Linked DNA regions of Homo sapiens: all the other regions are linked to region 1. Evidence: fine-mapped expression QTL. A gene starts in region 1. Each other region holds a variant in brackets. All regions are shown on one strand. Distances are from middle to middle.

Evidence for each region.
Region 2: its variant is fine-mapped to the expression of DENND3 in whole blood (INTERVAL, PIP above 0.99).
Region 3: its variant is fine-mapped to the expression of DENND3 in whole blood (TOPMed, PIP above 0.99). The same link has a PIP of 0.9 or more in blood mononuclear cells, lung and monocytes.

What each region holds. Positions count from the first base shown.
Region 1 is chr8:141,124,986-141,133,163 of GRCh38, forward strand. DENND3 (DENN domain containing 3) reads left to right here and starts at 3,604. Exons shown (of 23, transcript NM_001352890.3): 1 at 3,604-3,824. The coding sequence starts at 3,723. DENND3-AS1 (DENND3 antisense RNA 1) reads right to left here and starts at 5,156. Exons shown (of 2, transcript NR_183310.1): 1 at 5,039-5,156; 2 at 1-1,486. RefSeq lists enhancers at 2,200-3,031, 3,865-4,695 and a silencer at 3,150-4,009.
Region 2 is chr8:141,090,444-141,098,621 of GRCh38, forward strand. No RefSeq gene overlaps it. Among named protein-coding and RNA genes, the nearest start is that of DENND3, 34 kb to the right of the region's middle. RefSeq lists a silencer at 4,105-4,338 and an enhancer at 4,584-5,583. The variant A/G (reference allele first, on the strand shown) is at 4,402.
Region 3 is chr8:141,186,257-141,194,434 of GRCh38, forward strand. It overlaps DENND3 (DENN domain containing 3), which reads left to right. Exons shown (of 23, transcript NM_001352890.3): 19 at 2,730-2,890; 20 at 4,028-4,161; 21 at 6,075-6,193; 22 at 6,270-6,407; 23 at 7,777-8,178. The coding sequence ends at 7,977. Among named protein-coding and RNA genes, the nearest start is that of DENND3-AS1, 60 kb to the left of the region's middle. RefSeq lists enhancers at 5,869-6,369, 6,370-6,870. The variant G/A (reference allele first, on the strand shown) is at 4,112.

The DNA of each region.
Region 1 (8,178 bases):
GTTTAGTTTTGTGAGGAACTCCCATACTGTTTTCCCCAGCAGCTGCGCCATTTTACATCCCCAACAACAGTCCACAAGGGTTTCAATTTCTTCACATCCTCGCCCACATTTCTTATTTTTTGTTGTTGTGTTATTTTTAAAAAATAACACCTAATGAGTGTGACGTGGTATCTCATTTTAGCTTTGATTTGCATTTCCCTAATGATTAGTGATGTTAAACATGTTTTCATGAGCTTATTGGCCATTTGTGTGTCTTCTAAGAAATGTCTATTTGGGTCTGTTGCCCATTTTTTAATTGGGTTGGATTTTTTTTTGTTGTTGAGTTGTAGGAATTCTTAATATATTCTGAATAGTAACTCTTTGTTTTGTTTTGTTTTGTTTTGTTTTTTTGAGATGGAGTCTCACTTTGTCGCCCAGGCTGGAGTGCAGTGGTGTGATCTTGGCTCACTGCAACCTCTGCCTTCTGAGTTCAAGCGATTCTCCTGCCTCAGCCTCCCGAATAGCTGGGATTCCAGGTGCACGCCACCACGCCTGGCTAATTTTTGTATTTTTAGTAGAGCTGGGGTTTCACCATTTTAGCCAGGCTTGTCTCGAACTCCTGATCTCAAGTGATCTGCCTGCCTTGGCCTCCCAAAGTGCTGGGATTACAGGCATGAGCCACTGCATCTGGCTCTGAATATTAATTCTTTATCAGGTATATGATTTTCTCTTATTCTGTGACTTTTTCACTCTTTTGAAAGAGTTCTTTGATGTACAAAAGTTTTAATTTTGATGAAGACAATTTAACTATTTTTTCTTTCGTTATCTGTGCTTTTGGGGTCATATCCAAGGAATCACTGCCAAATCCAATGTCATGAAGCTTTTCCCTTCATCCTGTATTTTTTAAAAAATAATTTTAACACCTAAAGCGCTGCTAAAATGTCCAAAGTTAATTGACATCCTGCAGCGTCCCCATGAACTCCATTAAAAAAATTTATTCAAGTGAAATTCACACACCATAAAATCATCTTAAAACAAACCATTTAGTACCAGCACATTCACAATGCTGTGCTCGCCCCTCTTTTGGTGTCAGTACTTTATGGTTTATAAATTATGTTTGTTTCTATTTTCTCGTTTGGTCTTCACAGTGTCCCTGAGAGTTAGAGCAGTAAACCCGTTTCACAGGAACATGCAGGGAAGGAGGGTAACGTGCTCTGAGCCCACATGCAGTAAGCACTGACCGTGTTTGCAAGTTTCTTTTATCCAATCCGAGCTTTGCTTTCCTCGACTCTGATGTGGGGCAGTGCTGCCTACTGGGGCAGATGTTCCTGCTGGCTGGGCTCTCCTTGCACCTCTCTTCTTCTCTAGGTCCCCTCATCTGCTCATCTGCCTCGATGTGACTTCCACCTTTGAGTTTGATTGCTAGTCATCTCCACCTCGTATCTCCAAACCCATTAGCAATTTTTCAAGGATGGGACAAAGCTTTCCGTAGGCACTTTGGAAGGACCTGTGGCATGAGAGACGGGAGCGTATTAAAAAGTGCAGAACTGGGAGCCCCTCAGAGGTCATCTGGCCCAATTATCTGGTTTTAAGGAGGAGGAAAAGGGGGCATAAAGGAGTGGATTGCAAGCTCTGTGCACTGCTGGAGCTCTCTTCCTTAAAGCATTTGGCCTCTTGGTGATAAAGGGACAGCAGAGACCTGCTCTCGCGTGAGCCTTACTGGGTCCTGGTGGCAAGAGCTGCCATGTGTTTACCTCCCTTGGATCTTGACCACTGCCCCTCAGGAAGTCACGGCTTAGGGCTGTTGAGCTCACCTGTCACACAGCAACACACAGGAGCCAGACTCAGGCCCTGTGTGCCCTCAGGGAGTGGCTCATGGCTCCAGCCCGGGTTGAGAGCGCCTCTCCTGCATGCTGGGGACTCTAGGTGACGGATTCAGGCTGTGTGCTTTGCAGAGGCTGCTAAAAATGAGGCCACCAAGGCTGGGTGTGGTGGCTCATGCCTGTAATCCCAGCACTTTGGGAGGCCAAGGCGGGTGGATCACCTAAGGTCAGGAGTTTGAGACCAGCTTGGCCAACATGGTGAAACCCCATCTCTACTAAAAATACAAAAAGTAGCCAGGTGTGGTGGTGGGCGCCTGTAATCCCAGCTACTCTGGAGGCTGAGGCAGGAGAATCGCTTGAACCTGGGAGGCAGAGGTTGCAGTGAGCTGAGATCATGCCACTGCACTCCAGCCTGGGCTACAAGAGCAAAACTCTGTCTCAAAAACAAACAGAAAAACAACAACAAAAAACCGAGGCCACCGTCGAGAGAGACAGGCAATTGTTCATGAAATCGGTCTTTCTTTTGAAGTCAGAGACTATAACAACTGTGGCCTCAGCTCACCGATGAGAGCCACCGATGGTAGGCAGCCTCCAGGCCTGGGGGAGAACCAGCAGATCCTCACCATCTTTAGGTTAATAAGTGAAATAAAACCTGTGAGTCAGGCTGCAGTCACGGCCTCACCCGGCTCAGGGAAGGAGGGAGAAATTCCTCAGGGCTCCCTTTTCTGATGTTGCCTTGCTTTGTACTTACTGTTCCTTTTCCTGTTCAGCTGATGACAGATGTTTGACATTAAGCATTTTAGAGTTTTGTTTTTTAGAAAATAGAATCATAGATTATCAGAAGTGGAAGTCCCTTTGGAATAATTTCCCCTGGGTTACACAGATGGCTATGGCAGGGTCAAGGGAGGGGACGGTCAGCGGGGACTGAGCGCAGGCCCCCTCCAGGCTCTGCAGCAATGACCAGGCAGCAAGCCGGCCTCCCGGGCTTGTGGGCTGTCCTCTTTCTCTGGGGTCAGCCTGAGGCTGGAAGAGGCCCGTGGCCCACCGGGCATCAGGCCAAGCCTGGAGCTGACCAGGGAAGGGCCCTGCCAGGCCTTGGGCCTCTGACCCTCAGTCCTGAAGCCTCCCTCTAGCGGCGCCCACCCTGCTCCTTTTCCTGCTGAATTTTACTCAAGTCCGTACTTGAGTATGGCCGGCCCTAGGTTAACCCCGCAGAGTTATTAACCAGGAGTGGCTCTTTCCACCCCCCCTTCCCGCCGGCCCTTCCTGCTGTCCACACCCGGCCAACTCCACTGTCCTGGCAAGGGAGGGCTTCCTGGAGGCGGCAGCGGGCGGCGCGTCCGGCCTTTGTCCCCCCACGCTCTCCAGGGTAGGTCCAGGGACTGCCAGATCAGGGGACCCTTTGCGTCCTGGAGCCTTGGGGGCTGGATGACGTCGCCGGGCACCTGAGGACCCCGCCCATTCCTCCCTCGGTTCCCCAGGGAGCGGGCGGCCGGCGGGGCTGGGCGGGGCCGAAGGAAGGGGCCGCTTGCTCCGACGCCGCGCACGCGCCAGGGCCCGCAGGCGGGTTAGGAAATGACGACCGCGCGCGGGTCTCCAGCAGCACCCGCCCTAGGACCGGCCCCGCCCCCAAGTCCCGGTCCCTAGGGCCGGGCACGCCACTCCAGGCCCCGCCCAGAACCTCCCCGCCCAGTCAAGCCCCGCCCCCAAACTCTGTCTCCCCGCGGTATCCTCTGGGGCTCTCCAGGCCCCGCCTCGGCTCGGGCCCCGCCCCTCCAGGCCCCGCCTCCAGCCCCGCCCCGCAGACGGCGCTCGCAGCGCCCCCGGCCCCCAGGCGGCGCGGCTGGTCCCCAGGGGTCTGCGGGCGACTGCGCGGCTGAGGCGCCCGAGTGCGGTACTGGCGGCGGGCGGCGGGCAGCCATGGCGGAGGCCGCGTCGCCGCACTTGTCGCTGCCCTCGGGGCTGCTGGAGCTCTGCGCGCTGCTGGGCGCCCCCCGGGACAGTCTCCGAAGTCTCGAGCAGGTGAGGGGCGGGGAAACTGAGGCGGACGTGGGCCACGAGTCGGCAGCCGGGACAGCAGTCGGAGAGCGGGCGCCCGGGTGCCCTGTGGGTTGGCGCGGACTTTCCGAGGGCTGAGTCCCGGTCCCCCGGCGGTGACCCCGCGCGCCTGTGGCCGGGGATCGCGCCCGAGCTCAGGCAGGTGCCCTGGAGCAGCGCCCTGCTCCCCTCCCCTCTTCTCTCCTCTCCCCGCCCGGGGCCCTTGGTGTGAGACATGTCTTTTGAGAGCTGCGAACTTGGTCCGCCGGCCGGGAATCTGGGGGTGCCGCCCCTCGGAGAGTCTCTGGGGCCTCTCTCTTCAGTCGCTCCCATCTTGGGCAGGTGCTTCTGAAGGTGGGGTGCACCAGACAACGGGCGGAAGCCGCCGGAGCCTCACGGTCTAGCGGGCCCAGCCCTCGCTGCTGAAATGATTTCATTCTTTATGCTGGGATGTGTTGTCCCCTGAGTAGTGGGTTTTGCACCAGGCACAGAATAACGAGAGAGCAATCTTAGAGTTAGCCGCCGGCCTCGCGTATTCTGCATGAACCCCTTTGCGATGAAGCCTATAGCTATTTTTCTCCCTTGCGGTACCACCCCCACCCCCAACCCTTCCTCCATCTCTGCACCCTCGCAGCCAAAGTGACAACTTCATCTCCCTTCTGCTGGGAAAGCGGCAGTTTTGGAAATTCTCGTTTTCCTTTTTCTTCCCCAGCTTTTCTTAATTCTGTAACGCTGGCTTTCCCTGGAATCCATCTGTGTCTCTGGTTTCCTCCTGGTCCGCCTGTCTGTGACACCGTGACTGGGTCATGTTACCTAGAGATCCCGGCGTCACTGGCCAGCCGTCTGCACAGGTCCGTTCATCTCTTTGCAGACAACAGCATAGAAAGGCAGAGAGGCTTCTGAGTATTTAAATGACGCTGGGCTATCCAGGGAAAATGAAGACTGCAGGGCAGAGGGTGTCACCAGGAAAGGCAGATGTTCCTGCAAGTAACCAGATGAATGTCTGTGAGTGTCCGGGGAGTTTCCCCTGCTGGGCGTCAGTACCAAGCCAGTTTCGACTTCAGTGAAAAAGCATTCTCCTATGGAAATAGTTTCCTCGTTTCCCTCAACTTTTCCTTCCCTTCAACGCCCTGTCATGTCAGTAGATCCCGTTTGACCTCTGTCTCCTCGCAACGTCATCGATTGATTTGTCTCCCTACCTCGAATTTGCCAGATGGCATCTCCTCCTTTTTCTTCGAATAGGAAGTGACCTAGTTGCCGCTGTGGTCTCCTCAGCCGTTGAACGTCTTTCCTCTGGGGCAGTTACAACATGGGTGTTAGTTGCTTGGTGTGACACATGTCTTTTGAGGGCAGGGCGAATCAACTGGAATATTTGCAGTGGTGCTTTCTTTTTTTCAATTTCTTTATTATTATTATTATGTTAATAATAGAGAGGAGGTCTCACTGTGTTGCCCAGACTCATCTCCAATTCCTGAGCTCAAGTGATCCTCCCGCCTCAGCCTTTCAAAGTGCTGGGATTACAGGCGTGAGCCACTGCGCCTGGCCAGTGGTGCATTCCTGAACTAAACACGCTGCAACATTTTCATGTTCCCAGGTCAAGTGAGAGTATGGACAGTCTGCTACTGTGCATGCTTAACTTTGTCCTCTTTACTCTGTCTTTTGATTCTGTTAGGGGTTTGGCAAAGGGTGGAGAGAAAAGTAGTGAAGGACTAAGAAAATAAGGAGCGTTAGGGGATGGATTCCATTTCTTGGAGCCATCCTACTTTTAAGGTCAATATTAATGTTATAGTTAACCAAACATATGATTTTATTTATTTAGATGTTTTTTCGGCGGTTCTATTTTGAATGTCCAAGGCTTTTAAATATATTTTTTTTTTTTTGAGACAGAGTTTTGCTCTGTTGCCCAGGATGGAGTGCCATGGTGCAATCTCGGCTCACTGCAATCTCCGCCTCCTGAGTTCAAGCAATTCTCCTGCCTCAGCCTCCTAAGTAGCTGGGATTACAGGCGTGTGCCACCATGCCCAGCTAATTTTTGTATTTTTAGTAGAGACAGGGTTTCACCACGTTGGTCAGGCTGGTCTCAAACTCCTGACCTCACGATCTGCCCGCCTCGGCCTCCCAAAGTGTTGGGATTATAGGTGTGAGCCACCGCACCTGGCCGCTTTTAAATAATTTTTACCTTGACTTTTACAAATCCCCATTTCTCTGTGGCCCAGGCATTCCTTCTTGATGACACAGGAAAACAGAGGTCCGGAGGTATGAGGAATATCCAGCTTCATGTTGGATAGTGGAGGGCCCTTTTGTTTCATTTCCTAGAAGGGGGAGTAGTGTTTGTTTTTTTAGGAATGGTGACCGAGACTTTGAGAATGCAGGCTAATGTTAGTTACTGTGGTTAGTTACATTCCCCTCCACCCCTTTACTATAGAGCCCTCCCCAACCCCATTATTGGTTGCTATGGAGACTAGACATAGGTGTGACAGGATCCATTATAAATCCATCACACAGGAGTAGAAAGTGTTCTGAGTACCTTGCGTAGTACAGGTCACCCGCATAATTCTTGCGTGTGAAGCTCCATTTTTATGGCTTTTGGTGGACATCGTCCTGACTTTCAGTTTCAGAACAGCACTGGCCAGCTGGCCTTCCTGGGTGATGGCAGTTCGTGTCCTCTCTTTGCACCGTGCAGTACAATAGCCACTGGCCACATGTGGTCACTGAGCTTGTAGTGTGGCCAGTGAGCTAAGAAACTGGGTTTAAAATTTCATTTAATTCTAACTAAACAGTTGGAGAGCAATAAAAAAATTGATTAATTTCTGTTTTATTCCCTTAATAATGGCCAATCCTATAGTGAAGATGAATTCCACTGTGTACTCTAACTTAGAAATTAACCTGTGACTCAAGTAAATTAGAGTGTTCTGGTTTTTACTTTTGAATTAGCAGTTTTAAAAACCAAAATGATGGTTATTGGGTAGGGGTTTAATAAGTCAGCACCTGGGACAGAAGAATGGGAAATGACCTCACCTCCTGCAGCAGACTGGCAGAGGTGACTAGCGTCTCGGTGGTGGCGGGGTCTGGTTGTTCAGGGCAGCCACAACCTGTATCACCAAGTAACCTTGGAACACTCTTGTGCCAAGACTTCCATTTTTAGGAATTTATTCTAGGGAAAGAACTGGGTGCGTGCAAGTGTGTGTCACCGCTCTGTTCAGTGTGGTGAAGACTTGAGAACCACCCACACATCTCTCAGGAGGAGGCTGGGTCAATACATGACTGAGTTGACACATGCTGTGATATTGTGATACTGTACGGTTGTAAACAGGGAGGTCAGCCACATGAAGTAGTTAAAACAGCTAATGGAACCTGTTATGTAGGATGACTACATTTATGAAACAAAATTATACGTTTATACATGCATTAAAATGTATAAAATGCACAAAAAGGCATAAAATGGGAAGGATGTATCCACCCTGTGCAAAGTGTGTCATGGAATTATGGGAGGGCCGTCCCTTTCTATTAGCTCCTTTATTATTTCTATATTTATTATTTTTTTTTGTGGGGGATGGAGTTTCACGCTTGTTGCCCAGGCTGGAGTACAATGGTGCCATCTCGGCTCACTGCAACCTCTGCCTCCCAGGTTCAAGCGATTCTCCTGTCTGAGCCTCCCGAGTAGCTGGGATTACAGGCATGTACGACTATGCCTGGCTAATTTTGTATTTTTAGTAGAGAGGGGGTTTCTCCATGTTGATCAGGCTAGTCTTGAACTCCTGACCTCAGGTGATCTACCTGCCTCAGCCTCCCAAAGTGCTGGGATTACAGGCGTGAGCCACTGTGCCTGGCCTCTATATTGTTATTTTTAAAAATGAGATTGTATTGCTTGTCCATTGAGAAAAGACAACAGAGATTTCATTCTGAGAAAAAACAGGTGTATGGTGAACTACTGAATGCCAAGTTGATCGGATCTGGGGCACATCATTATAAGTGACTAGAGATAACTAGAGGAATGACAGGTGGGGTGTTGAGTCTAGTGTGATCACCAGTGTTCAGTCCAGGCTGAGCATGCCTCTAAGAGATCACCAGGTGCCAGGAGTGTGAATGAGGAACGATATCGCCTCAGTCATCTTCTCTGCTAAATGTGGGGACAGAGAGGAATACAACACAATCTCTGCTCCACCGCATCCCCTCAAATGGAAGGTGGTAAAATACCACTGGGCAGGGCCGAGATGCTCCAGGGGGTGATGAGCTGGGAGGTGGAGGCCTGGAGGAGCCTGTGGTCCTGGCTGCGGGGTGGCAGAGACCTTCTGCAGTGAGCGTGGGGGGTGGAGGGTCTGCCCCCGTGCAGGTGGAG
Region 2 (8,178 bases), 35 kb before region 1:
CAGTGACAAAACATTTGACAAGACTAACATCTCTTCCCATGAGATGACCCTAGGGAAAGAACAGAATAAATACAAACATCTGTACCTTCAGAAAACTTCCCTAAAACAAAAAGATTTGGAACTACATATTGAAAGAGTACACCATGTATTTGAGAAGACAGACCCAGGGTAACCAACATCAAAACATGTTCTAGTAAAATTACCAATCTAAAAAAAAAAAAAAAATCCTTGAGTCCAGGTTAAAAGAGTGAGGGACTTATACTAAAATAAAAATTAGATTGTCGTGCGACTTTTCAACCACAACACGTTCTGCCAGAAGAAAAAGGAGAAACATACTGTACTTAAAATACTCGAGAGAAAATGTGAGCCAAGTACTATGCACCCAGCAAAACAGACTTTGGAGTATAAAAGGCACAAACAAAAAGCAGCCCCAAAGGACTCAGGAAATAATGTTCTCAGGGTCTGAGGGGCCCAAGGAGCCTATCAGAGAATGACCTTCAGGCAACCAATAGAGTCCTCAATGGAAGCACTAGATAAGGAACCAAGGCTAAACCAAGGCTGAAAAGGAGAGTATAGTGTCTTGGATAGCGACTACTTGGGGCCAGTGTCACTGGAAGTAAAGGAATTTACCAAGACAGTTGTAGGTAAAGAAAGGCAGATTTATTGAAGTATGAAAGGTAGGTGGCTCACGCCTGTAATCCCAGCACTTTGGGAGGCCGAGGCGGGCGGATCACGAGGTCAGGAGATCGAGACCATCCCGGCTAAAACGGTGAAACCCCGTCTCTACTAAAAATACAAAAAATTAGCCGGGCGTAGTGGCGGGCGCCTGTAGTCCCAGCTACTTGGCAGGCTGAGGCAGGAGAATGACGTGAACCCGGGAGGCGGAGCTTGCAGTGAGCCGAGATCCCGCCACTGCACTCCAGCCTGGGCGACAGAGCGAGACTCCGTCTCAAAAAAAAAAAAAAAAAAAAAAAGGTAGGATGCAGTGGCTCACGCCTGTAATCCTAGCACTTTAGGAGGCCAAGGTGGGCAGATTACCTGAGGTCAGGAGTTTGAGACCAGCTTGGGCAACATGGTGAAACCCCGTCTCTACTAAAAATACAAAAAAATTAGCCAGGTATGGTGGTGCATGGCTGTAGTCTCATCTACTCAGGAGGCTGAGGCAGAAGAATCACTTGAACCTGGGAGGTGGATGTTGCAGTGATCCGAGATCGCACTGTTGCACTCCAGCCTGGGTGACAGTGAGACTCTGTCGAAAGAAAGAAGGAAAGAAGGAGAGAAGGAGAGAAACAGAGAAAGAGAGAAAGAGAGACAGAGAGAAAGAAAGAAAGAAAAGAAAGACGTTGCAAGGGTGCAATGGGCAGATCAGCAAGAGAGGAGCTGACTGCCAGGAGACAGAGGCTTGCTGGGGATTTCGCAGGACGGTGCTCGTGCTGTGTGCTGGAGTGGGCCATGTGAAGTATCGCTAACACCAAGGTTGCAGCGAGCTAACTTGCATTTTTCTATCAGCCAAGGGTCTGGTGATGAGTCAGGTGTGGGAAGGTTGTGAGTTATTTGTGCAGGAGGGCTATGTGTTCTGGATCAAGAAGAAAGGCAGACTTATAGCTTATCTGAGTTTTTTTTTTTTTTGCCAGCCTCACTCCTTTTCCCTTATTAGGACCTATGTTTTGCGTGTGATGGCTACATTTTCTGACCGTGTAGATACAGATGGGATAAGGAAACTGGGTGGAGAATGGGGAGAGCATATGAGAACAATGTAATTGTTTTCAGTAATGCTGGTAGAGTATTAGTAGCAGTAGTGGTGGTTGTCATTAGGATTTTACTATTGTTATTCTAAGACCATTGAGTGTGTAAAGTGGAAAAGAGCAAATAAACAACTATGAGAGACAGTGTACATTCATTTTCCTGAGAAGCAGAATTCTAAGTGTGGAAGAAAGAAGATGGCAAATGTAATATAGTAGGGTTTAAGTCAAAACTCTAGTCCTGAATTCTAATTGGAAATATTAGTTTGAACTCATGAGGCCCTTTTATGTTTTAAAAAAATGTTGGTATATTTCCTAGCTCTGTCCACTGTAAAGGTCTTAAAGGAAAAAAAAGACCAACCCAGTAGCAATGAGCATCCCTAGAATCCACACTGTGGTCTTGAAATACAAACTCCTACAGCAAGAAACCAGGGCTTTTTGGAGCAATGGCTGATTCTAGGTCTGGAGCAGGAAATATGCAAGATGAGTGGAGCCACCCTGACACATTGCATAGCACGAAACCGTCAAAGCCACCAGGGCCACCTCCAAGGCTTCTGCCGCCAACTTAAGAGGCATCCACTGGGCAAAGATCAAACCATTTGAGCTTGGAAAAGGATAGTCATTGCCATTGATTGAAGCTTTCAAATGTTTGTTTGTTTATTTATTTATTTATTTTGAGACGGAGTCTTGCTCTTTCGCCCAGGCTGGAGTCCAGTGGCACGATCTTGGGTCACCGCAACCTTTGCCTCCTGGGTTCAAGCAATTCTCCTGCCTCAGCCTCCCAAGCAGCTGGGATTACAGGTGTGCACCACCATGCCTAATTAATTTTTTTGTATTTTTAGTAGAGACAAGGTTTCACCATTTTGTCCAGGCTGGTCTCGAACTCCTGACCTCAGGTGATCTGCCCGCCTCGGCCTCCCACAGTGCTGGGATTACAGGCGGGAGCCACCCGTGCGACCTCAAATATGTTTAAATCCAAGTGTTTGTAGTGTTATTAAATAAGAAAACCTTGATTGTTCCATGGTGGAAGGTGAGAGGGAACTAAGTCACTCTCCCAAAACTGGTAAAGAAGAGAAGGTGCATTTCTTTTTTCTCTTTTTTGAAATGGAGTTTTGTTCTGTCATCCAGACTGGAGCACAGTGGCACAATCTCAGCTCACTGCAACCTCCACCTCCCCAGTTCAAGTGATCCTCCTGCCTCGGCCTCCTGAGTAGCTGAGACTAGAGGTGCATGCTATCACGCCTGGCTAATTTTTGTATTTTTAGTAGAGACAGGGTTTCGCCATATTGGCCAGGCTGGTCTTGAACTCCTGACCTTAGGTGATTCACCTGCCTTGGCTCCCAAAGGGTTGGGATTACAGGCATGAGCCACTATGGCTGGCCCAGCCCCATTTCTTATTTGAACTGTGCCACTGGGTAGCCAGCAGCAGATGAGAAGAAGCATCTCTTTCTAAGAGGGTGCCACAGAATAACTAAAACAGGAACATTAGAGTCAGAATTGCATCATTGCAGCCCCTGATGAATTAATGGGCCTGGGCCTGGAGCATCAAGAGCTACTGACGTCACCAGGGGAGAGACAAGCTGGCCTTCCCGTGCCCTGCAGTGGGAACACAAGGCAACCTTTGGGCTCGCCAAGGGACTGAACAGGAGCCTGACGGAGCTTCTGGACCCAGCTGCCAATTTGCAGAGAACGTAGAGGACAGAGGAGGGTGTCAAACAGCAGAGTGAACCTGAAGCAACACAATGCGGGCTGCAGGAAACGGCGAGGAAAAGACAGGGAGGGAGGCGCAGCCTGCAGGTGACTAGAGACTTATCAAAAGGCACGTCAAAAATGTCTACAAGGCTGGGCGTGGTGGCTCACGCCTGTAATCCCAGCACTTTGGGAGGCCAAGGGGGGGTGGATCACTTGAGGTCAGGAGTTTATGACCAGCCTGGTCAACATGGTGAAACCCCACATCTACTAAAAATACAAAAATTAGCCAGGCATGGTGGTGTGCGCCTGTAATCCTAGCTACTTGGAAGGCTGAGGCAGGAGAATTGCTTGAACCGGGGAGGTGGAGGTTGCAGTGAGCTGAGATTGCGCCACTGCACTTCAGCCTGGCTGACAAAGTGAGACTCAGTCTCAAAAAAAAAAAAAATGGTCTACCACGTCAAGATTAAACTACATTATCTAGAGAAGGATGGTTGGGTGATAAGCCTGTAAAACAAAACCCACAACGAGGCTATTTCCCTAAAAGTTAGGACACTGGTTGCTTAACAGCAGGCAGGGCTGTTATTGTACCTCAGGGGACTCAGGGGCAACAAAGTTCTCTTTCTTGGCCTGGAAGGCGGTTCAAAAGAATTCACTTTGTGATAATCACTAAGGTGCACACATGTTTTGTATGTTTCTCTGAGGCTGCGTGAAAAGGTGAGAAATGAGAGCTGTGCTGCTACCACAAATAATGAGAATATCAGAAAACCTGATACAAGGCCAATGGAGTCACTAACGACTCACTGGGGACCAGGGATGTCTTCCTGGAGGAGGTGGAATCGGAGCAGGGCTTCGGAGAGTGGACGGGATTTGGGGTAGACCAGGGTTTCACAACCTTGACATTGACATCTGGGGATCATTCTCTGGTGAGGGGCCGTTCCGTGCACTGCAGGGTGCTGAGCAACATCCC[A/G]GGCCTCCACGCATTTGATGCCACTTGGCACCCCCAGACCCCGAACAGTTGTGACAATCAAAAGCATTTCGAGAAATTGCCAAATGTTCCCTGGGAACAAAATTTACCCCAGTTGATTTTTTTTTTTTTTTTTTTTTTTTGAGATGGAGTCTCATTCTTGCCCGGGCTGGAGTGCGGTCGTGTGATCTCGGCTCACTGCAACCTCTGCCCCTAGGGTTCAAGCAAGTCTCCTGCTTCAGCCTCCCGAGTAGCTGGGATTACAGGCCCCTGCCACCATGCCCAGCTAATTTTTGTATTTTTAGTAGAGACGGGGTTTCACCATGTTGGCCAGGCTGCTCTTGAACTCCTGACCTCAAGCGATCAGCCTGCCTCGGCCTCCCAAAGCACTGGGATTACAGGTGTGAGCCACCGCACCTGGCCCAAAATTTCCCCCAGCTGAGAACTGCTGGATCCGAGAACCACGCACAGATTAGAAATGGAGAAAAGCCTGAAACTCCCTGGAGGGTCTGAGCTTTGCAGACGCTCCCTCCTGCCCTTAGGTGTTAGTTCTGTGAGAGGCCAGCATGGCCACTGCCTGAGGTCCTCACAGGAGTCTGCTTCCTGCCCAGCCTTACCCTGGGTCTCACAGCCTGACCTCGGGCCTTCCTGCAGACCTGCCTGCTGTCCCAGCTGGAGCTCCTTCTCTCGAGAGTTCCTGTGACCCTGGCTGTGGCCAGAGCCGGGGTGCGGGATGGTCCCAGGCCTGATGGTGTCTGACCACGTGATCACACCCTCCCCAGACCGAGGAGGAACCTGGGGCTGGGAGGGAAGTGCCTTGCCCACAGCCACACGGAGGGCAGAAGCAGCCCTTCCCGGGCCCAGGCTGCTACTCGGCCCAGCCAGCTGCGTCTGACGGTGGCAGAGCTGCAGTGTCAGCGCCGGGAGGGCCCGCAGAGCCCCATGGGCAGGCTCTTATTTCACTGGTGGGGAGACTGAGGCCCTGGGGTGGGGGTTCCAGGCTAGTTATGGACAGAGCCAGACCAGAACTCAGATGTCCTTACTCCCAGGGTAGATGGGACCCTCGTTTGAGCATGTCATTATTAAGCCCCTGCGTTGTCCTAAGAGCTTTCTCTCATGTGTCCTTTCTGAGCACCTGCGGCGTCTATGCCACTCCACTGAGTTCTGTAAACCCCACAGGTAGGGGCAGAGGCCAGAGGGGTGGGTGACATGGTCAGCCTGCATCCCAGGGCACCCTGGACAGAGTGAACCAGAGGACGGGTGTGGAGTACGTAGCGGAACATCCTGGGAACTGCTACTCTCATGACCCTTGTGGCTACCATCAACCGTTTCAAGAGAGACTGCAGGGAGGCCCCACTGCTCCAGACCTGGGAGCCCCATGTTTCCAAGGCCCTGAGTTCCTCTATAAGTCCCAGGGGCAGGAGGAGGGGACGTGGAAGGTTGAGCTCCCACGCCCACCCAGCTTCACTTGGATTTGCCTAAAACGTTCTTTGAAACAAAGAATTCTATTGTTTAAGACACTGTTCTCAAACCAGGCACTGGGGCTGGAACCTGTGCCTTCTGGAATTCCCTGCCCTCTCGGAGGACTCCGAGACCTGGCTGCAGCCACCCCTGATTCTCCTGCACCGAGGAACACCCCGTGGGATGTGCTGGCCACTGATGGCTGACCTCTGTGCCGCCGTTGCCAAGGGTGGCCGGACTAAAGACACGCTTGTGAGAGCACCACGGGCTCCAGAGGAGTGGCTCCTGCTTCTGGGGGAGCAGCCAAAGCCTGCTCTGCGCTGCTTTGCAGAGACCTCTGAGCCAGCCAGGTGCTCCCAGGGGACGGGTGGGCCGCCGGCCTGCAGGTTATGCACAAAGCAAGGAAGTGTGACGCCACCAGAGGGAGGTAAACAGAAGGACGCTTCCTCTTTCGCTTCCACAGGCCTCCTGCCTGATCCAGAAGGTTCTCAAACTACAGAAATATTTCCCTCCCAGCCTGTACAGGGGCTCAGGTAGCACTTCTGATGTTGCCCTCCTTGTTGGGGAGGAAAGGGAATTTTTTATTTTTATTTTTATTTTTTATTTTTTAGAAGGAGTCTCGCTCTGTCGCCCAGGTTGGAGTGCAGTGGCCCGATCTCAGCTCACTGCAAGCTCTGCCTCCTGGGTTCACGCCATTCTCCTGCCTCAGCTTCCCGAGTAGCTGGGACTACAGGCGCCCACCACCACACCCGGCTAATTTTTTGTATTTTTAGTAGAGACGGGGTTTCACCGTGTTAGCCAGGATGGTCTGGATCTCCTGACCTCGTGATCCACCTGCCTCAGCCTCCCAAAGTGCTGGGATTACAGGCGTGAGCCACTGCACTCGGCCTTTTTTTGTTGTTATTTTTGAGATGGAGTCTCACTCTGTCGCCCAGGCTGGAATGCAATGGTGCAATCTTGGCTCATTGCAGCCTCGGCCTCCTGGGTTCAAGAGCCTCACCTGCCTCTGCCTCCTGAGTAGCTGGGATTACAGGTGCCTGCCATCATGCCCTTTGTATTTTTTGTAGAGAAGGGGTTTTGCCATGCTGGCCAGGCTGGTCTCGAACTCCTGACCTCAAGTGATCCACCCACCTCAGCATCTCAAAGTGTTGGGATTACAGGCATGAGCCACTGGCGCCCAGCATTGAGTATGCATCATTTGTATGTGTTGGATACACTTCAAGTCTTCTCTTCTAGCTATTTTGAAATATACAGTAGTTGTTAACCAGAGTCACCCTACTCTGCTATCCAACGTTAGAACTTATTCCTCCTATCTAACTGTATGTTTGTACCGTTAGCCAACCTCTCTTCATTCCCCCACCCTCCTTTCCCTTCCCAGCCTCTGTTAACCAACATTCTACTCTCCACCTTCATGAGATCCACTTTTTTTGGCTCCCATGTACGAGTGAGAACGTGCCACATTTGTCTTTCTGTGCCTGGCTTATTTCACTTAACACAGTGACCTCCAGTTCCATCCACGTTGCTGCAAATGACAGGATTTTATTCTCATTTTATGGCTGGATAATATTCCATTGTGTAAATATACCGCCCTTTCTTTATCTTTTCATCTGTTGGTGACACTCCGGTTGAGTCCGTATCTTTGCTGTTGTGAATAGTGCTGCAGTTGATGTTTATGCGGGTGCAAGCATCCCTTTAATAGATGGATTTTCTTTCCTTTAAATACCTGGTAGTGGGATTGCTGGATGGTTTGTAGTTCTACTTTCAGTTTTTTGAGAAATCTCCTTACTGTTTTCCATAATGGCTGTACTAATTTATGCTCCCACCAACCAGTGGATGAATCCCTTTCTGTCCACATCCTTGCCAGCATCTGTTATTTTTTGCCTTTTTAATAACAGCCATTCTGGCTGGGGTGAGATGATATCACATTGCAGTTTTGATTTGCATTTCCCTGATGATAGTGATGTTGAGCATTTTTTTCATATACCTGTTGGCCATTGTGTGTCTTCTTCTGAGAGATGTCTATTTGTCTATTTAGATCCTTTGCTCACTTTTTAATGGAATTGTTTTAAAAACAAACAAAACAGGTGAGAGGACACTGCTAGAATCACAGAGGTGAGCTGGGGGTGTCTTGATGGCTGACAGCAGCTCACCCCCACCCCACCCACTTTACAGATGAGAAAACTGAGTCCCCGAGGGTTTAAGTGTTTAAACGTTTAACAGGTGATTGGTTGACATTGTGAACAGACAGGTTCTGGCACTGCAGCTTTAGGGGAGCCAGAAAGCCCTGCTTACTCCCAAATTGTTCCTCACTGTCCCATT
Region 3 (8,178 bases), 61 kb after region 1:
CACAGTGGTTACTGGGTCTCTTTTGGAGCAAAAGAGGAGACAGCTGCCTCTGCAGTGACTTCAGTGTTATCCACCTGTCCCCACGTGCCAGGTGGCAGAGACCAGGGCCCAGCAAAACTCAGTGTCCACTCGTCACACATTATTCCTCTCACTTAGAGCAAGCTTGTCCAACCTGTGGCCTGCAGGCTGTACGTGGCCCAGGACGGCTTTGAATGAGGCCCAACACAAATTTGTAAACTTTCTTAAAACATATGTTGAGTTTTTTTTGCAATCTTTTTCCTTCTAGCTCATCAGCGATCGTTAATGTTAGTGTATTTTATGTGTGGCCCAAGACAATTCTTCTTCCACTGTGGCTCAGGGAAGCCACAAGAGTGCACACCCCTGATTTAAAGCAAGTTTGAATTGTTTCTGATAATTTTAAAACAAGTGCAACTGTTAATACATTTTTAGTAGTGTGTCCTTGGCAGTGCCATGGTGTGTCGCTTCTTCCATGACCATGGTATCTTGAGTGTGGAAGCTGGGATTCCTGCCCTGCTCATCCCTCCAGGCCCCCAGCGGCCCCTCCTGCCTGCAGACCATCATTTCTTGGGGATTTTCCCTGTTTGCCCGTCAGCGCTGTGAGCTGCCCCTCCCTGCGGATCTGTGTGCGCTTCCCTGTCGCCCGAGAGGCCGCTGAGTAGCTCCCCGTGCTCTGAGACCCCACACTCCCCCGCACCGTGGCCTGCGCGCCCTTTGTCCATGTTTCTCCTGTTCTTGCTCATGGATTTGCAGATGACGTTCACATTTAAATTGCATTTTATAGTTTTCAAAATATTTTCGCATCTACACTCTCCTCCTATCTGGTCACCCTCCAAGCAGCCACCCCATCATGGGATCTGCTGAGAAATCCTCATGCCTTACTCCTTGAGCATGATAGGATTTTTTTTTTTTTACATGTTTAATGTGAAAAGAACACTCCAGTGGAGTATATACCTAAGTATATATTAGGCATTGGCTGGTACCATTTTTTTTTTTTTGACAGGGTCCCTCTCCCATTGCCCGTGGCTGGAGTGTAGTGGCACAATCGCTGCTTACTGCAGCCTGGACCTCCCGAGTAGCTGGGGCTATATAGGTGCGCACCACCACACCCGGCTAATTTTTGTATTTTGAGTAGAGATGGGGTTTCACCGTGCTGCTCAGGCTGGTCTCAAACTCCTGGGCTCAAGCAGTCCTCCCGCCTCGGCCCCGCCAAAGTGCTGGGATTACAGGTGTGAGCCACTGCGCCCGGCCATGGTATCAGTTTTGATGGCTGTGTTCCCTTGTCTAAAAATAATGTGGGAAAATCCGTGGCACAGTATGTGCTTGCAAAACTGCTATAAAACAAATACTGTGAACTCAAATACATACCACCAAGAGGGTGGGACCACTCTTGAGATACCTGAATAGCAAACTTTACATGTTAGAAGGTAATAAGAGCCTGCTAAATCATTTCCCCCCATATTCAAATCATGAGCCTCAGATGATAAAGTAATAGGATCCATGATACAGTAAAAATATTGACAAAAGTCTAGTAATGCTTTAAACCAAACAACAAAAAAAGGAAAAATTAGGGAAATTATTTTTCTAAATTTAATTTTTTTCAGTTCGTTCTTAGTTATAAGCATTTCAAGGCTGGGCGCAGTGGCTCACGCCTGTAATCCCAGCACTTTGGGGGGCCGAAGCAGGAGGATTGCTTGAGTCTAGGAGTTCGAGACCAGCCTGGGCAACGTGGGGAAACCCTATCTCTACTAAAACTGCCAAACATCAGCCAGGCGTGGTGGCATCAGCCAGGCGTGGTGGCATCAGCCAGGCGTGGTGGCCCATGGCTGTAGTCCCGGCTACTCGGGGGTCTGAAGCGGGAGAATCGCTTGAGCCGGGAGGCTGAGGCTGCAGTGAGCCATGATCATGCCACTGCACTCCAGCCTGGGTGGCAGAGTGAGACTCTGTCTCAAAATAAACAAACAAACAAAAATAAAAATTCTGATTTCAAAGAGTCTAAAAGCAATCATTATGTTGACTTTGCTTAGCTTAGACAGAAACCCTGAGCGCACTCTCTAGACACTGGGAGCACTGCCAGTTCTGCTTGTTCACATACAGTCGGTCTCATCATTTGGAGATTCCGTATTTGCAAATTCGACCACCTGCTAATATTTACTTGTAACTCCCAAAACAGATACTCGTGGTATTTTCTTGGTGATCCACAGACATCCACGTGCACAGACGGGGGAAAAACTTGAGTCACCTGATATGGATTTTCTGGGCCAACAAGTGTCCTCTCCTCGGCCTGATTGGTGCCACAGTTTTCACATTTTTTGCTTTTCGTTGGTGATTTTGCCATTTAAGAAAGCCTCAAGCATGGAGCTCCCTAAGCACAAGGAGGCGGTGACGTGTCTTGCAGAGAAAATGCATGTGTGAGATGAGCTTGGTTCAGGCCGCAGTGACAGTGCTGGCGGCCGTGGGTTTCGTGTTAATGAATCAATCATACGTAGTCAATAAGGTGTCTGTGAACAGAGCACGCGGAGAACAAGGTTATGCACTGATGGGTGGATGACAACGTCAGGGCCAGAGGCTCCCAGGACCCTGAGCCGGCGTGTCCCCTAGGAGCAGTGGTTCCATATCCGCTAATTCAGCACGTGCAGTAAATGTATAGAATATGACTTCACCAGTATCGAGACTGACTGATTTCTCACGTTCCCGTGGCCTCCTGTTAGAACTGCATGGTGATGGCCGACCAGAACCAGGTGTGGGTTGGCTCGGAAGACTCCGTCATCTACATCATCAACGTCCACAGCATGTCCTGCAACAAGCAGCTCACAGCCCACTGCTCCAGTGTCACGGATTTGATTGTGCAGGACGGACAGGAGGCACCCAGGTGCAGTAAGCTCTGCTGGGGAGAAGGGACTGTTTGGCTTGTGGGTGGGCAGAAGGCACAGCGGGTAGGGTTCCCAAGTCTTGTGCCCACAGGGGCCAGGCGGGGCGTACAGAGTGAAGTGGATCTAGAACGAGGAAAGCTGGGTGGTGTCCTCGGTCTGCTTCTGCTCACGGGTGCGGAGAACCCATGACACCAGTGTGGGCCAAGCGTGGTGATGAAGGCACCACACCCGGCCTTCCTGCTGAGCTTGCTGTGGGCACTGTGGCATGGGGCAGCCCCGAGAGGGCACAGCCTCCCAGAGGTGCACCAGCCATGGTGTCAGAAGCCTGGACTCGCCTGATAATCGCCTGAGTGCTCAGTGTTGGCCTTGGGCTGCCTGTTCGCTGCTGTTTCCCACAGTGGGAGCAGCACTGGACACGGGGCATCCAGGGAGACGGGAGGAGGAGGTGGGGTCTCCTTGAGCAGAGGCTCATGGTGGGGAAAGTGCACAAGGCTGCCCACTTGGTCCAGGCAGCCCCAGCCCTGGGTGAGGGGCCACACTCCCCACTCCTTTTTCCCCTGACTTAGTGTCGGGGGCGCCTGTGTCAGGCCCTGTTGGGGTGGGTAGGGAGGTGCTAGTCTGGAAGCAAAGCTGGCTCAGGAGGTTCAGGGGTGGCGCAGGGTGCAGGCTCGAGCCCAGCCCCGCCCACAGCCGCCTGCACCTGCAGCCAGCCCATGTCACCCGAGAGCTCTGAGGATCGTGCTGGCTCCCTGGTCCCTTGTGTGAACGGGGACCGCTGACGAGGTTCCATTTCAGTTCATGGTCATGTCATGGCTCTATGACAACACCTCATTGAGCCTGCGGCCCGCGGTGGTGGGAGAGGTGGGCGTCCCGAGAAACCCGCCTTTTCCTGCCGAGTCAGTTACATTTGAGCCAAGCCTGGCTGTGGCTGCATTCATAGCATGTTTGCATGTTATTATCATGTTTGCAGGTTACGTTTGCAGGTTATTATGTTTGCATGTTATTATCATGTTTGCAGGTTATCCGTGTTGAGCACATTTTCTCTCATGGCGACTTGGTTCTCTCTTGGGTTAAAATGTGCACAGTGTTTTCAGGGGCCCAAGTTAAAGGTGTGTGTGTGTGTTTTGTGCCCCCAGCAACGTGTACTCGTGCAGCATGGACGGCATGGTGCTGGTGTGGAATGTGAGCACACTGCAGGTGACCAGCCGCTTCCAGCTGCC[G/A]CGAGGTGGCCTGACGTCCATCAGACTGCACGGCGGCCGCCTGTGGTGCTGTAAGTCCGGCCCCTGCCATCAGAGCGGGCACCCTACCTCCCTGCTCTGGGAAAAGGATGCTGAACGAGAGCAGAAAGCCTCTTTCCTTTGCTTCACGCCTTTCCAGTCTTTATTTTAAACTCGGGTTCCCTTTCTGTGGTCGCAGCAACCTTTACTCCACCTGCACTGCTGCTCCTGGGGGCTCCCCAGGCCTCCCTCTGCCTTTCTACCCAGCGGCTGACGGGATGCCTGTCTTGCCTGGACGCACCACTGCTCTCCTGTCCCTCACCTTGGCTTTTGCTGTGCCCTGCTCTGGGGTTGAAGCTGGCCCATGTGTCCCCCGGAGTCATGGCTGCTCCTCCTGGGAGGCCTCTGTGTGCGTCACGTCTCCACACCTGGGGGCAGCTGGCGAGCCCGTGCTCTGTTCCCCTCGGCTGCTTGGCACAGAGCTGCAGCCTGGGACTCTCCGTGGACCCAGACTGGGGATTTTGCCAGGGGGGCGATGGGAGGAGCAGGTGCTTTGCCTGGCGGCTGTGTCTGCATTTCTGGACGCCCCAGAGCACAGAAGTTGCCGGCACTTTGAGGTCTTCCTCGGCATGTGCCAGATTACATGAGTGACGGCTGGGAATATGTTTTCTTTTTTGTAATGGAGGCGTGTTTCACATATAGTAAAGCTCACCAAAAAGTGCTCAGTTTGTTGTGTTTTGACAAACATCTAAACTACATAACCATGAAACAAATCAAGACACGCAGCGTTTCCGTCACAGCTGAAAGCGTCTGTGCCCCTTTCCAGGCCGTGCCGCCATTCAGGGGATACAAGTGCTCTTAGTTCTGTCATCTGAATTTGGTTTTTACAGAACTTTCTACAAATGGACTCTACAGTAGGCCTTCTTCTGTATCTGGCTTTATTCAGACAGCAGGATGTTTATAGTATTCATCGCTGACGTTCTGAGTATCAATATCAATAGCTCGTTCCTTCTTGCAGGGTAATAGTCCATTGTGTGCATATGGAACATGCTCATCCTTCCCCTGCCCCAAGTGGGCACTGGGTTCACTCTGCTTAACTGTTTGAAAAACCGTCAGACTGTTTTCTGAAGTGGCGGCAGCAGCTTCCACGCCACCCGCAGTCTCAGGCTTCATTTCTTCACATCCTCACCCAAACTGGTTCTCACCTGTTTTTACTGACACCGTCCCCGCGGGAGTGAAGTGGCGTCTTGTGGTTTGGATCTGTGGCTCCCTCATGGCTGATGGTGCTGAGCACTCTGTCGTGTGCCCGGTGCCCGCTGACGCCTCCCTGGGAGCAGCGCCTGTGCAGGCCCCTGCCCACTGTTCCGCTCACTTTCAGGGCCGGTAGCGACGTGGTTGGGTGCAAGCCAACGGTTGTCCTTCTTCCCCTCATCTGTTATTTGTTCTGTTCTTCCTTTCTTGCCCTCTTTTGTATTGAATATTTTTATGTTCAATTTAATCTTCTTTACTGTTTTTAAGCATTATATTTTTGTTTTATTTTTCAGTGGTTGCTCTAAGAATTGCAATATGCAACCTTAACCGATCACCCTCCTCCTTAACTAACTATGATACTGCTTCATGGATAGGGTAAGAAGCTTACAACAGTATCAAGTGTGGTACTCCCAATAATACATTCTTTAAGATTTTTGCTTAAGCAGTCAATGATCTTTCAAGAAAGTTAAGAAAAATTAAGAAACTGCCCATATATTTACGTTTTCTGGTGAGCCTCATTTCTTCTTAAAGACCCAGGGTTCTAGCTTGCATTTTTTCCCAGTAGACCTCACCTGTGCATTCCTCAGGCGCCAGGTGGCACGTGGTGATCCCCCCCATCACCACGCTGGAAAGAGCAGTGAGGCCGGCTCTGGTGCTGGCGTCTTATGTTGCCAATGACACTGCCTGGCCCCATCCTAGCTCCTTCCTTCCACAGGCACAGGTAACAGCATCATGGTCATGAAAATGAATGGATCCCTCCATCAAGAATTGAAGATTGAGGAGAACTTCAAAGACACCAGTACCTCCTTCCTGGCCTTCCAGCTCCTTCCTGAGGTATCCCAGCAGGGGCTGTGGGCCCAGCATGTGCGTGGCCCGGGGCCCATAGCCCACACCGTGCCCTGCGTTTCAGGAGGAGCAGCTGTGGGCGGCCTGTGCAGGACGCAGCGAGGTTTACATCTGGAGCCTGAAGGACCTGGCCCAGCCCCCGCAGAGGGTGCCCCTCGAGGACTGCTCTGAGATCAACTGCATGATCCGGGTGAAGAAGCAGGTAGGGTGGAGGGCCCGCCATCCCCAGCATCCCCGGCAGGTCTCGCTTGCCCTGGCCGCATCCCCATGCTCCCGAGAGCCAGCCGCACGCCCTCGTGCCCTCCTGCCTTCGCCTCTCAGGGTTCCCCTCCTAACAGGCACGTGCAGGGTTGGTGCCAACGGGCCCACAGGTCACCATGTGCTGGTTTCATGGTGTGGTCCAAGCACTCCACAGCGCATTCCCCCAAACTGGATGGCTTCAAATGACAGAACTTAATTTTCTCACAGTTCTCGACGCTGGAGGTCCAAAACCAAGGTGTCGGCAGAGCCGCTTCCCTCGGGGGCTCGGGGGGAGCGTGCACTCCAGGCCCTTCTCTCCCCCACCCGCTCATGTGGCCGCCGTCCTTGGCGTGCCCTGGCTGTGGACGTGGCACTCTAACCTGTGCCTGCACCACATGGCACTCTCTCTCCCTGTGTGTGTCTCTTATGGGGATGCTGGTCGTACTGGATTAACCAGTGTGACCACATCTGAACTATCTGCAGACTCTACTTCCAAAGAAGCTCACATTCTGAGGTTCAGAGGATATGGATTTGGGGGGACACTGTTCAACCCATTACAGTCTGCCCTCTGGCCCCCTAAATCCACATCTGTTCCACATGCAAAATACACCCCCTCCATCACTACATCCCCCGAAGTCCCAGTCCCTCCAGTGTCAGTTCTGAGCCCCAAATCTCCAAGTGAAGCCAAAGCCCTCCGATGTGGGTGAGCCGTGGGCGGGTCCCACCTGGGGCAGAACCAACCCCTCTTGCACCGTGAACCTGCGCAGCTAGAACAGGCTGTCTCTTCCCAAAACACAAGGCTGGGCCAGGCAGAGGTTAGACATTCTCATCCGAAAAGGGAGAAATTGGAAGGAAAGCTGGACTTCCAGGCCCCGAGCAAGTCGGAGACACGGCGGGGGTGGGGCGGAATTCGTTTAGTGTTTTCCCCCATAACTTAATTGGGGTATAATTGATGAATAAAAATTATATATATCTAAGGTATACAAGGTGATATTTCAGTATACATTGTGAAATAATCACAAGCTAATTACCATATCTGTCACCTCACACAGGTGGCTGTTGTTTGGTGAGAACACTTAAGATGCACCCCAGCACTTTTCCAGCACGCAGTGCAGTCTTCTTCCCCAGAGGCCCCTCGGCCATTAGGTTCTAAGCCCGAGAAGGGTCCTGTGCACCTGCCAGGCGGCCCTGACCCTCAGGCGGCAGAGGCCCTGTCCAGGAAGGACATAGATTTGGAGGCACACGCGTCAATTCTGGGTAGCCGGGCAAAGCCCTGGTGCTCTTGGGAGGGGCTTCTTTCCCTGCTGACCCCTCCCGTTTCTCCCTGGCAGGTCTGGGTGGGCAGCCGAGGGCTGGGGCAGGGAACACCCAAGGGGAAAATCTACGTGATTGACGCCGAGAGGAAGACCGTGGAGAAGGAGCTGGTGGCGCACATGGACACCGTGAGGACGCTGTGCTCGGCTGAGGACAGATACGTGCTGAGTGGGTCGGGCAGGGAGGAGGGGAAAGTCGCCATTTGGAAAGGCGAATAAACGTGGCTGAGTCTGCCAAGTGGAACTGTGCCCTATGTGTGGGGACTGGCTGCCCCCTAGAGCCTGCCAGGAGCAGAAGCCTGGAGGGGTGGCAGGGCAGAGCAGCCCAGGCTCAGCATGGAGCCCACTTACCGTGTGGCCAGCCGCGAGACCCATGGCCACGCACCTTCTCTCAGGCCTTCGGGCCCCCTGGTTAAACTG